2 linked regions of the Homo sapiens genome follow. The protein of the gene in region 2 interacts with the protein of the main gene of each other region in a pairwise test. Each region holds a gene or a part of one and is shown on either strand. Other genes may lie near its edges.

Region 1 (5,189 bases), on a different chromosome or scaffold from region 2:
CAAGGAGTTCCCTTTCCTAGTCAAAGAAAGGGGTGACAGACGGCACCTGGAAAATCAGGTCACTCCCACCCTAATACTGCGCTTTTCCAATGGACTTAAAAAACGGCACACCAGGAGATTATATCCTGCACATGGCTCGGAGGGTCCTACGCCCACAGAGTCTCGCTGATTGCTAGCACAGCAGTCTGAGATCAAACTGCAAGGAGGCAGCGAGGCTGGGGGAGGGCGCCTGCCATTGCCCAGGCTTGATTAGGTAAACAAAGCAGCCTGGAAGCTCGAACTGGGTGGAGCCCACCACAGCTCAAGGAGGCCTGCCTGCCTCTGTAGGCTCCACCTCTAGGGGCAGGGCACAAACAAAAAGACAGCAATAACCTCTGCAGACTTAAATGTCCCTGTCTGACAGCTTTGAACAGAGTAGTGGTTCTCCCAGCATGCAGCTGGAGATCTGAGATCCGGCAGACTGCCTCCTGAAGTGGGTCCTTGACCTCCAAGCAGCCTAACTGGGAGACACCCCCCCAGTAGGGGCAGACTGACACCTCACACAGCTGAGTACTCCTCTGAGACAAAACTTCCAGAGGAACAATCAGGCAGCAGCATTTGCAGATCACCAATATCTGCTGTTCTACAGCCACCGCTGTTCTGCAGCCACCGCTGCTGATACCCAGGCAAAAAGGGTCTGGAGTGGACCTCTAGCAAACTCCAACAGACCTGCAGCTGAGGGTCCTGTCTGTTAGAAGGAACACTAACAAACAGAAAGGACATCCACACCAAAAACCCATCTGTACATCACCAGCATCAAAGACCAAAACTAGATAAAACCATAAAGATGGGGAAAAAACAGAGCAGAAAAACTGGAAACTCTAAAAAGCAGAGCGCCTCTCCTCCTCCAAAGGAATGCAGCTCCTCACCAGCAATGGAACAAAGCTGGATGGAGAATGACTTTGACGAGTTGAGAGAAGGCTTCAGACGATCAAACTACTCCGAGCTTCAGGAGGAAATTCAAACAAATGGCAAAGAAGTTAAAAACTTTGAAAAAAATTTAGACAAATGTATAACTAGAATAACCAATACAGAGAAGTGCTTAAAGGAGCTGATGGAGCTGAAAGCCAAGGCTCGAGAACTACATGAAGAATGCAGAAGCCTCAGGAGCCGATGCGATCAACTGGAAGAAAGGGTATCAGTGATGGAAGATGAAATGAATGAAATGAAGCGAGAACGGAAGTTCAGAGAAAAAAGAATAAAAAGAAACGAACAAAGCCTCCAAGAAATATGGGACTATGTGAAAAGACCAGATCTACGTCTGATTGGTGTACCTGAAAGTGACGGGGAGAATGGAACCAAGTTGGAAACACTCTGCAGGATATTATCCAAGAGAACTTCCCCAATCTAGCAAGGCAGGCCAACATTCAGATTCAGGAAATACAGAGAACGCCACAAAGATACTCCTCGAGAAGAGCAACTCCAAGACACATAATTGTCAGATTCACCAAAGTTGAAATGAAGGAAAAAATGTTAAGGGCAGCCAGAGAGAAAGGTCAGGTTACCCACAAAGGGAAGCCCATCAGACTAACAGCGGATCTCTCGGCAGAAACTCTACAAGCCAGAAGAGAGTGGGGGCCAATATTCAACATTCTTAAAGAAAAGAATTTTCAACCCAGAATTTCATATCCAGCCAAACTAAGCTTCATAAGTGAAGGAGAAATAAAATACTTTACAGACAAGCAAATGCTGAGAGATTTTGTCACCACCAGGCCTGCCCTAAAAGACCTCCTGAAGGAAGCACTAAACATGGAAAGGAACAACCAGTACCAGCCACTGCAAAATCATGCCAAAATGTAAAGACCATCAAGGCTAGGAAGAAACTGCATCAACTAACGAGCAAAATAACCAGCTAACATCAAAATGACAGGACAAAATTCACACATAACAATATTAACTTTAAATGTAAATGGGCTAAATGCACCAATTAAAAGACATAGACTGGCAAATTGGATAAAGAGTCAAGACCCATCAGTGTGCTGTATTCAGGAAACCCATCTCACGTGCAGAGACACACATAGGCTCAAAATAAAAGGATGGAGGAAGATCTACCAAGCAAATGGAAAACAAAAAAAAGGCAGGGGTTGCAATCCTTGTCTCTGATAAAACAGACTTTAAACCAACAAAGATCAAAAGAGACAAAGAAGGCCATTACATAATGGTAAAGGGATCAATTCAACAAGAGCTAACTATCCTAAATATATATGCACCTAATACAGGAGCACCCAGATTGATAAAGCAAGTCCTGAGTGACCTACAAAGAGACTTAGACACCCACACAATAATAATGGGGGACTTTAACACCCCACTGTCAGCATCAGACAGATCAACGAGACAGAAAGTTAACAAGGATACCCAGGAATTGAACTCAGCTCTGCACCAAGTGGACCTAATAGACATCTACAGAACTCTCCACCCCAAATCAACAGAATATACATTTTTTTCAGCACCACACCACAACTATTCCAAAATTGACCACATAGTTGGAAGTAAAGCTCTCCTCAGCAAATGTAAAAGAACAGAAATTATAACAAACTGTCTGTCTCTCAGACCACAGTGTAATCAAACTAGAACTCAGGATTAAGAAACTCACTCAAAACTGCTCAACTACATGGAAACTGAACAACCTGCTCCTGAATGACTACTGGGTATATAACAAAATGAAGGCAGAAATAAAGATGTGTCTTTGTTCTCATTGGTTTCAAAGAACAACATACCAGAATCTCTGGGACGCATTCAAAGCAGTGTGTAGAGGGAAATTTATAGCACTAAATGCCCACAAGAGAAAGCAGGAAAGATCCAAAACTGACACCCTAACATCACAATTAAAAGAACTAGAAAAGCAAGAGCTAACACATTCAAAAGCTAGCAGAAGGCAAGAAATAACTAAAATCAGAGCAGAACTGAAGGAAATAGAGACACAAAAAACCCTTCAAAAAATTAATGAATCCAGGAGCTGGTTTTTTGAAAAGATCAACAAAATTGATAGACCGCTAGCAAGACTAATAAAGAAAAAAAGAGAGAAGAATCAAATAGACCCAATAAAAAATGATAAATGGGATATCACCACTGATCCCACAGAAATACAAACTACCATCAGAGAATACTACAAACACCTCTACGCAAATAAATTAGAAAATCTAGAAGAAATGGATAAATTCCTCAACACATACACCCTCCCAAGACTAAACCAGGAAGAAGTTGAATCTCTGAATAGACCAATAACAGGCTCTGAAATTGTGGCAATAATCAATAGCTTACCAACCAAAAAGAGTCCAGGACCAGATGGATTCACAGCAGAATTCTACCAGAGGTACAAGGAGGAGCTGGTACCATTCCTTCTGAAACTATTCCAATCAATAGAAAAAGAGGGAATCCTCCCTAACTCATTTTATGAGGCTAGCATCATCCTGATACCAAAGCCAGGCAGAGACACAACCAAAAAAGAGAATTTTAGACCAATATCCTTGATGAACATTGATGTAAAAATCCTCAATAAAATACTGGCAAACCAAATCCAGCAGCACATCAAAAAGCTTATCCACCATGATCAAGTGGGCTTCATCCCTGGGATGCAAGGCTGGTTCAACATACGCAAATCAATAAATGTAATACAGCATATAAAGAAACCCAAAGACAAAAACCACATGATTATCTCAATAGATGCAGAAAAGGCCTTTGACAAAATTCAACAACCCTTCATGCTAAAAACTCTCAATAAATTAGGTATTGATGGGACATATCTCAAAATAATAAGAGCTATCTATGACAAACCCACAGCCAATATCATACTGAATGGGCAAAAACTGGAAGCATTCCCTTTGAAAACTGGCACAAGACAGGGGTGCCCTCTCTCACCACTCCTATTCAACATAGTGTTGGAAGTTCTGGCCAGGGCAATCAGGCAGGAGAAGGAAATAAAGGGTATTCAATTAGGAAAAGAGGAAGTCAAATTGTCCCTGTTTGCAGATGACATGATTGTATATCTAGAAAACCCCATTGTCTCAGCCCAAAATCTCCTTAAGCTGATAAGCAACTTCAGCAAAGTCTCAGGATACAAAGTCAATGTACAAAAATCACAAGCATTCTTATACACCAATAACAGACAAACAGAGAGCCAAATCATGAGTGAACTCCCATTCACAATTGCTTCAAAGAGAATAAAATACCTAGGAATCCAACTTACAAGGGATGTGAAGGACCTCTTCAAGGAGAACTACAAACCACTGCTCGATGAAATAAAAGAGGATACAAACAAATGGAAGAACATTCCATGCTCATGGGTAGGAAGAATCAATATCGTGAAAATGTCCATACTGCCCAAGGTAATTTATAGATTCAATGCCATCCCCATCAAGCTACCAATGACTTTCTTCACAGAATAGGAAAAAACTACTGTAAAGTTCATATGGAACCAAAAAAGAGCCCACATCGCCAAGTCAATCCTAGGCCAAAAGAACAAAGCTGGAGGCATCATGCTACCTGACTTCAAACTATACTACAAGGCTACAGTAACCAAAACAGCATGGTACTGGTACCAAAACAGAGATATAGATCAATGGAACAGAACAGAGCCCTCAGAAATAACGCCACAGATCTACAACTATCTGATCTTTGACAAACCTGAGAAAAACAAGCAATGGGGAAAGGATTCCCTATTTAATAAATGATGCTGGGAAAACTGGTTAGCCATATGTAGAAAGCTGAAACTGGATCCCTTCCTTACACTTTATACAAAAATTAATTCAAGATGGATTAAAGACTTAAACATTAGACCTAAAACCATAAAAACCCTAGAAGAAAACCTAGGCATTACCATTCAGGACATAGGCATGGGCAAGGACTTCATGTCTAAAACACTAAAAGCAATGGCAACAAAAGCCAAAATTGACAAATGGGATCTAATTAAACTAAAGAGCTTCTGCACAGCAAAAGAAACTACCATCAGAGTGGACAGGCAACCTACAAAATGGGAGAAAATTTTTGCAACCTACTCATCTGACAAAGGGCTAATATCCAGAATCTACAATGAACTCAAACAAATTTACAAGAAAAAAGCAAACAACCCCATCAAAAAGTGGGCGAAGGACATGAACAGACACTTCTCAAAAGAAAACATTTATGCAGCCAAAAACCACATGAAAAAATGC
Region 2 (5,189 bases):
GGGCTTTTTATTTTTAATTTTTTTTGACAGGCTCTTACTCTTGCCCAGGCTGAGGTAAAGTGGCATGATCATGGCTCCCTGCAGCCTTGAACTTCAAGCTCAAGCGATCCTCCCACCTCAGCCTCCCAAGCAGCTGGGACTATAGGCACGTACCACCATGCCTGGTTATTTTCTTTTTCATTTTTTTGTAGAGACGAGATCTCACTATGACGTCCAACTCCTGGCCTCAAGCAATCCTCCCGCCTTGGCCTCCCAAAGTGCTAGGATTACAGGTGTGAGCAACTGCGCCCAGCCCCCTATGGCAATTTTTTTAAAGTAATATTATATTCTAAAATATCTGACAAGAATAAGAGAAAGCCACTGCATGTGGGCTGCTGTCATGGGAATGTGCATCTCTGTAGGACTTGGGAGATTCTGAGAAACTGCATGTCTGGGAAGCTCTTCTCATCTTCTCTCAATTCATGGTAAGATGAAAAAGACATTATCTTAAAGTCCTGGTAGATTTAGTAAGTGTTTGTTTGACTAACTATCTGGGTCTCAAAGTTTCTCTTGGAGTATAATTCAAATTCCTGAAGTGTCCACTACATGATATAAAATGCTATTAACTATCAAGGAATTCTATCCAACTAGTATTAATATACTGTCACACTAACAAGAGCTGGATTTTTTTTTTGGCAGAGGTTCCAGAAACGCCAGATTAGGAGATATCTTCTTGCAGCATGCAGCATAGCAGCCCCTGCCCCCTCTCACCCAGTCCCCCCACCACTTACCGCTGCTCTAGTGTAGTCCCCAGTGGCCAGGGAGCCGGTGGAGCTCATTTCCGCAATAAGGAGGCACCCCCGATGCAAAGGCAGGCCCACTTCTTGCAGGCCTTTCACAACTCCTGAGCCTGGCACCACGTGAGCATTTACTAGATCTGCCCAGGAAGCTATTTTAAAGATACCTCCTAAGAAGAAGGGGGAAAAAAGATATTTGCTGATTTTCAAACAAAACCTCTAACGTCTTGTCCAACCAACCAACTACAATATGAAATAATCTCCCAGTAACATGTTAATGAGAGAATCAAAACTCTTCAGGAACTTTAGTGATTATCAGCAGACCCATGGTTCCATCTGTGAAAACTGTATCTGTTATTCAGGTAAGTAGCTGGGTGAGAGATCACAATGAGAAAAAACTTTCAAGGTCTGCACTTGGCTTATCTGGAACACTAACAGGACTCTTTTTCCTTGAAGGCTGAAGCTCATGACCACAAATAAAGCTCATGCTATTAGAAAGGGACTCCAGTGAAGATAAACATTTATTGATGTCAAGGATAACATTTAAAAATTCCTCTTGAAGCTGGGCATGGTGGCTCATGCTTGTAATCCCAGTACTTTGGGAGGCTGAGGTGGGCAGATTGCTTGAGTTTAGGAGTTCGAGACCAGCCTGGGCAACATGGCAAAACTCCATCTCTACCAAAAATACAAAAAAATTAGCTAGGTGTGGTGGCGCATGCCTGTGGTCCCAGCTACTTGGGAGGCTGAGGTGGGAGGATCACTTGAGCCCAGGAGGTGGAGGTTGCAGTGAGTCAAGATTGCACCACTGCACTCCAGCCTGGGCGACAGAGCAAGACCCCATCTCAAAAAAAATAATAATAAAAATAAAATTCTTCTTGAAGATGACAAGTTTTCACTCTGCAGGGGTCTCTCAGCAGCTTTACTATCGCTCAATATTTCTACGTGTTCCTTAGATCTCCTTAGCTATCTAATTTCAATAGGCAACTATATTCCTTTTAAAAGCGGACAGTAACAAGCCTGATTTTCGAAAAAACTCTATGCAGAGCTGAAGAAAGTTTGTATAAAACTCTTATGTCAGTCAATCAGCTAAAGTAAGCTAGGCAATGTGATGAGGGCAGGACATCTTAAGCACATGAAGAAGTCACTTAAAGACAAATCTATTTTAAAGAAATAGCTTATGAACATGCATACATTAAAGAAAAGTTACCTCAAAGATGCCTACAAAAAATGTTATATGACACAACCAAATATCTGTTACCAGGTTAAGTGAAAAATGCATTAAATATAGTCTGATCACACAGTTGTAAAAACATAGACAGAAATTTGCATAGAATAGGCAGTAGAACTAAGCATTTTTCTCAACCAACACATGCACTACTTTGAGTCCCTATTTGATAAAAGAAAAATCTTTAAATAATGTTTATCAATAGAACTTTTTCTGCTACAAATAAATCTTACCATTTTATATTTCTTTTTCATTGTTTCCTTTATGTGGAATTTTCATTCAAAACATCATATTCTGCCAAGGACATCTGTCAAATTTGCTTGCCCAGGCACATACCCTTCTTCTGGTACTAGCACATCCATTTTCTTTAAGGAAATTATCCCTGACTGGTTCTTATTTCAAGAAGGTCATACAGAGTTAACAACCTCACAGTTGCAGAGCAAATTGCCCAGGCTAGTTAATGAAGGTATTCTACATCCCAAGCTAGAGTGATTGGTTTGGGGTGAGCATGCAGAGTATGCCTACCTGAGAAAGAAGTCAACAGAGAAGAAAGCAGAGCTGAGAGATGGAGAGAAAGCAAGTCATGAAGATATCACTTGAGCTCCTGGATCCAACCACGCTTGACAGCCTGCTCTATGAATGGACTTTCAATGACATGAGCATTTCCTTTTTCTTCTTCAGTTTAAGCTGGATTTCTGATTCTTGCAGATTCCTGAATAATACACTTACCTTCATACTGCTTTTTCACTGTGTTTCCTATATCTGCAAACTTCCGGTCTTCAAATATCAAGAACTCATGGCATTTTGCCAGAGTTATCAACTCCTTCATCACATCCAGAGTAAAATCATTCAAAATATCTACATGAGTCTTCAGCATGCAGATACTAGGTCCTAAAGCATCTGCTAGCTGCAACAGCTCTCTGGCCAGTGAAACATCAGCAGATAGACACAGATTGGTCTCCTTCTTTTGCATAAGCCTGAGAAGCTTCGATGCAACTGGGTGGATCCTGGGCAGCTCTGCACGTGCACCGAAGCTGAGTTCTTTGGGTGCTTCCTTTATAGAAAGGGGAGAACCATTATGATTCGCTGCCACAAAGACATTCTCCTGAATAAACCTCTTCACTCTCCCAACTGTCTCAGCATCAACTTTTTTCTGCTGCTCGAGAATCTCCAGCATTTTGGACAATGTACACACTGAGTGGAGGCGGATCCCGTGCGCCTGCAACTTGTCCTTGCCTCCCTGCTCTCTGTCCAACAGCACTATGGCATCAGTGACCTTCAAGCCCTCCTTCTGAAGAACCTCAACAGTTTCCAAAACACTAGATCCACTGGTGACAACATCTTCAATGATTAAACAGGTTTCTCCTGGATTAATAGTTCCTTCTACAAGACGCTTAGTTCCTAGAAAAGAAAAAATTTTGCTGATTCCAAATTTAAATATGTATGTATATGTGCGTATATACGTACACACACTCTGTATACAAAACTTGCCAGTTACACATACAGTATATGTGTATACCAATTCTGTATACCAAACTTGCTAGTTGCACATACAGTATATTTATGTATAAAGCCAACTCTGTATACCAAACTTGCCAGTTACACATACAGTATATTTATAGTAAATCAAGTAAATTATTTCACATTATAAACACTGCTTAATGTGTTTTATGATCAAATTTTCAAATAGAGAGGTTTTTTTTTTACTTTAAAAAAATCTGTTTTATCATAGAGATGAGGTCTCACTATGTTGTCTAGGCTGGTCTTGAACTCCTGAGCTCAAGTGATCCTCCCGCCTCAGCCTCCCAAAATGCTAGGATTATAGGTGTGAGCCACCACGTCCAGCCTAAATACAGAGTTTCTTACAGCAAGATCACCTAGATCAAGGAAAGTTATGAAACAGAATAATCCAGTATCATGAATGAAATAATTCCTTTTTCCATCAAAGTATTTTAAGTTCACTATTCAAGATCAGCCAAATAATTGACTTTTTGAAGACACAAATTCAGAAGGAAAAATATTCAGCAATCATTTAGACCCATTACTACAATCTAAAGAATTATATAATGCAATGTGATTAAATATATACTTCTCTACCCAAATCCCACTAGACTATTTTCAGATAATCTACAAAACGTAAATAACTTGGGCTGTAGACTTTAGACTCATCAAATCCTTTCCGCTTCTTGAACAACTGGTAAGTTTAACTGAATCAGCTTAAGCTAGAACACAAGACTGCAAGTATTTATAGTATATTTAAAAATGCATAATTTCATAGAAACAGTTTTTAAAACATAAAATAATAGAAATAAGAGTTTTCTTATGGGTAGGGATTCATACAGTTTTTTTTTAGCTCAGAAAGTCTCAGCTGGGTGCAGTGGCTCACACCTGTAATCCCAGCACTTTGGGAGGATGAGGCAGGAGGATGGCTTGAGACCAGGAGTTCAAGACCAGCCTGGGCAACAGAGTGAGACCTTGTCTCAAAAAAACAAAAAACAAAAACAGAAAAACTAACACTGCCCTTACGCCACAAAAACTCAACTAATATGTTTCTTTTTTTTAATCATAAAAATTTTCAGAATGCATCTGTAGAAGAAGGATTTGTTTTAAAAAAAGTAACAAAACACTAATAAACCAACATAAACAAAAAAGCCCATTAATTCCTTACTATCATTAAGATTGCTTTTCAGGTTTTATTTATTTATTTTTTGACAGTCTTGCTCTGTCACCCAGGGTGCAGTGCAGTGGCATAATCATAGCTCACTGCAACCTTCAGCTCCTGGGCTCAAGGCATCCTCCTGCCTCAGCCTCCCATGTAACTGTGACACTCAGCTAATTTTGTATTCTTTTTTTATTTTTGTAGAGACAAACGTTGCCAAAGCTGGTCTCAAACTCCTGGGCTCAAGCTATCCTCCCACCTTGCCCTCCCAAAGTGCTGGGATTACAAGTGTGAGCCACTGTGCCTGGCCAATTTTCAGGGTTTTTTTTGTTTGAAATAGGGTCTCACTTTGTCGCCCAGGCTGGAGTGCAGTGGCGCAATCTCAGCTCATTGCAACCTCCACCTCCTGGGTTCAAGCGCATCTCCTGCCTCAGCCTCTCCAGTAGCTGGGACTACAGGTGCATACCACCACGCCCAGCTAATTTTTGTATTTTTAGTAGAGACGGAGTTTTACCACGTTGGTCAGGCT

The links. The genes of interacting proteins can lie anywhere in the genome.
Region 1: the proteins of UMPS (region 2) and ZNF227 interact in a two-hybrid assay, tested with the Homo sapiens proteins (one large-scale study listed by BioGRID and IntAct).

Annotation. Positions count from the first base shown.
Region 1 is NC_000019.10:44,221,522-44,226,710, reverse strand, and holds part of ZNF227 (zinc finger protein 227), read right to left. Parts: intron 1-5,189. UniProt on the Homo sapiens protein: May be involved in transcriptional regulation.
Region 2 is NC_000003.12:124,735,781-124,740,969, reverse strand, and holds part of UMPS (uridine 5'-monophosphate synthase), read right to left. Parts: intron 3,403-5,189; coding exon 2,731-3,402; exon of another isoform or gene 2,527-2,730; intron 947-2,526; coding exon 771-946; intron 1-770. UniProt on the Homo sapiens protein: Bifunctional enzyme catalyzing the last two steps of de novo pyrimidine biosynthesis, orotate phosphoribosyltransferase (OPRT), which converts orotate to orotidine-5'-monophosphate (OMP), and orotidine-5'-monophosphate decarboxylase (ODC), the terminal enzymatic reaction that decarboxylates OMP to uridine monophosphate (UMP).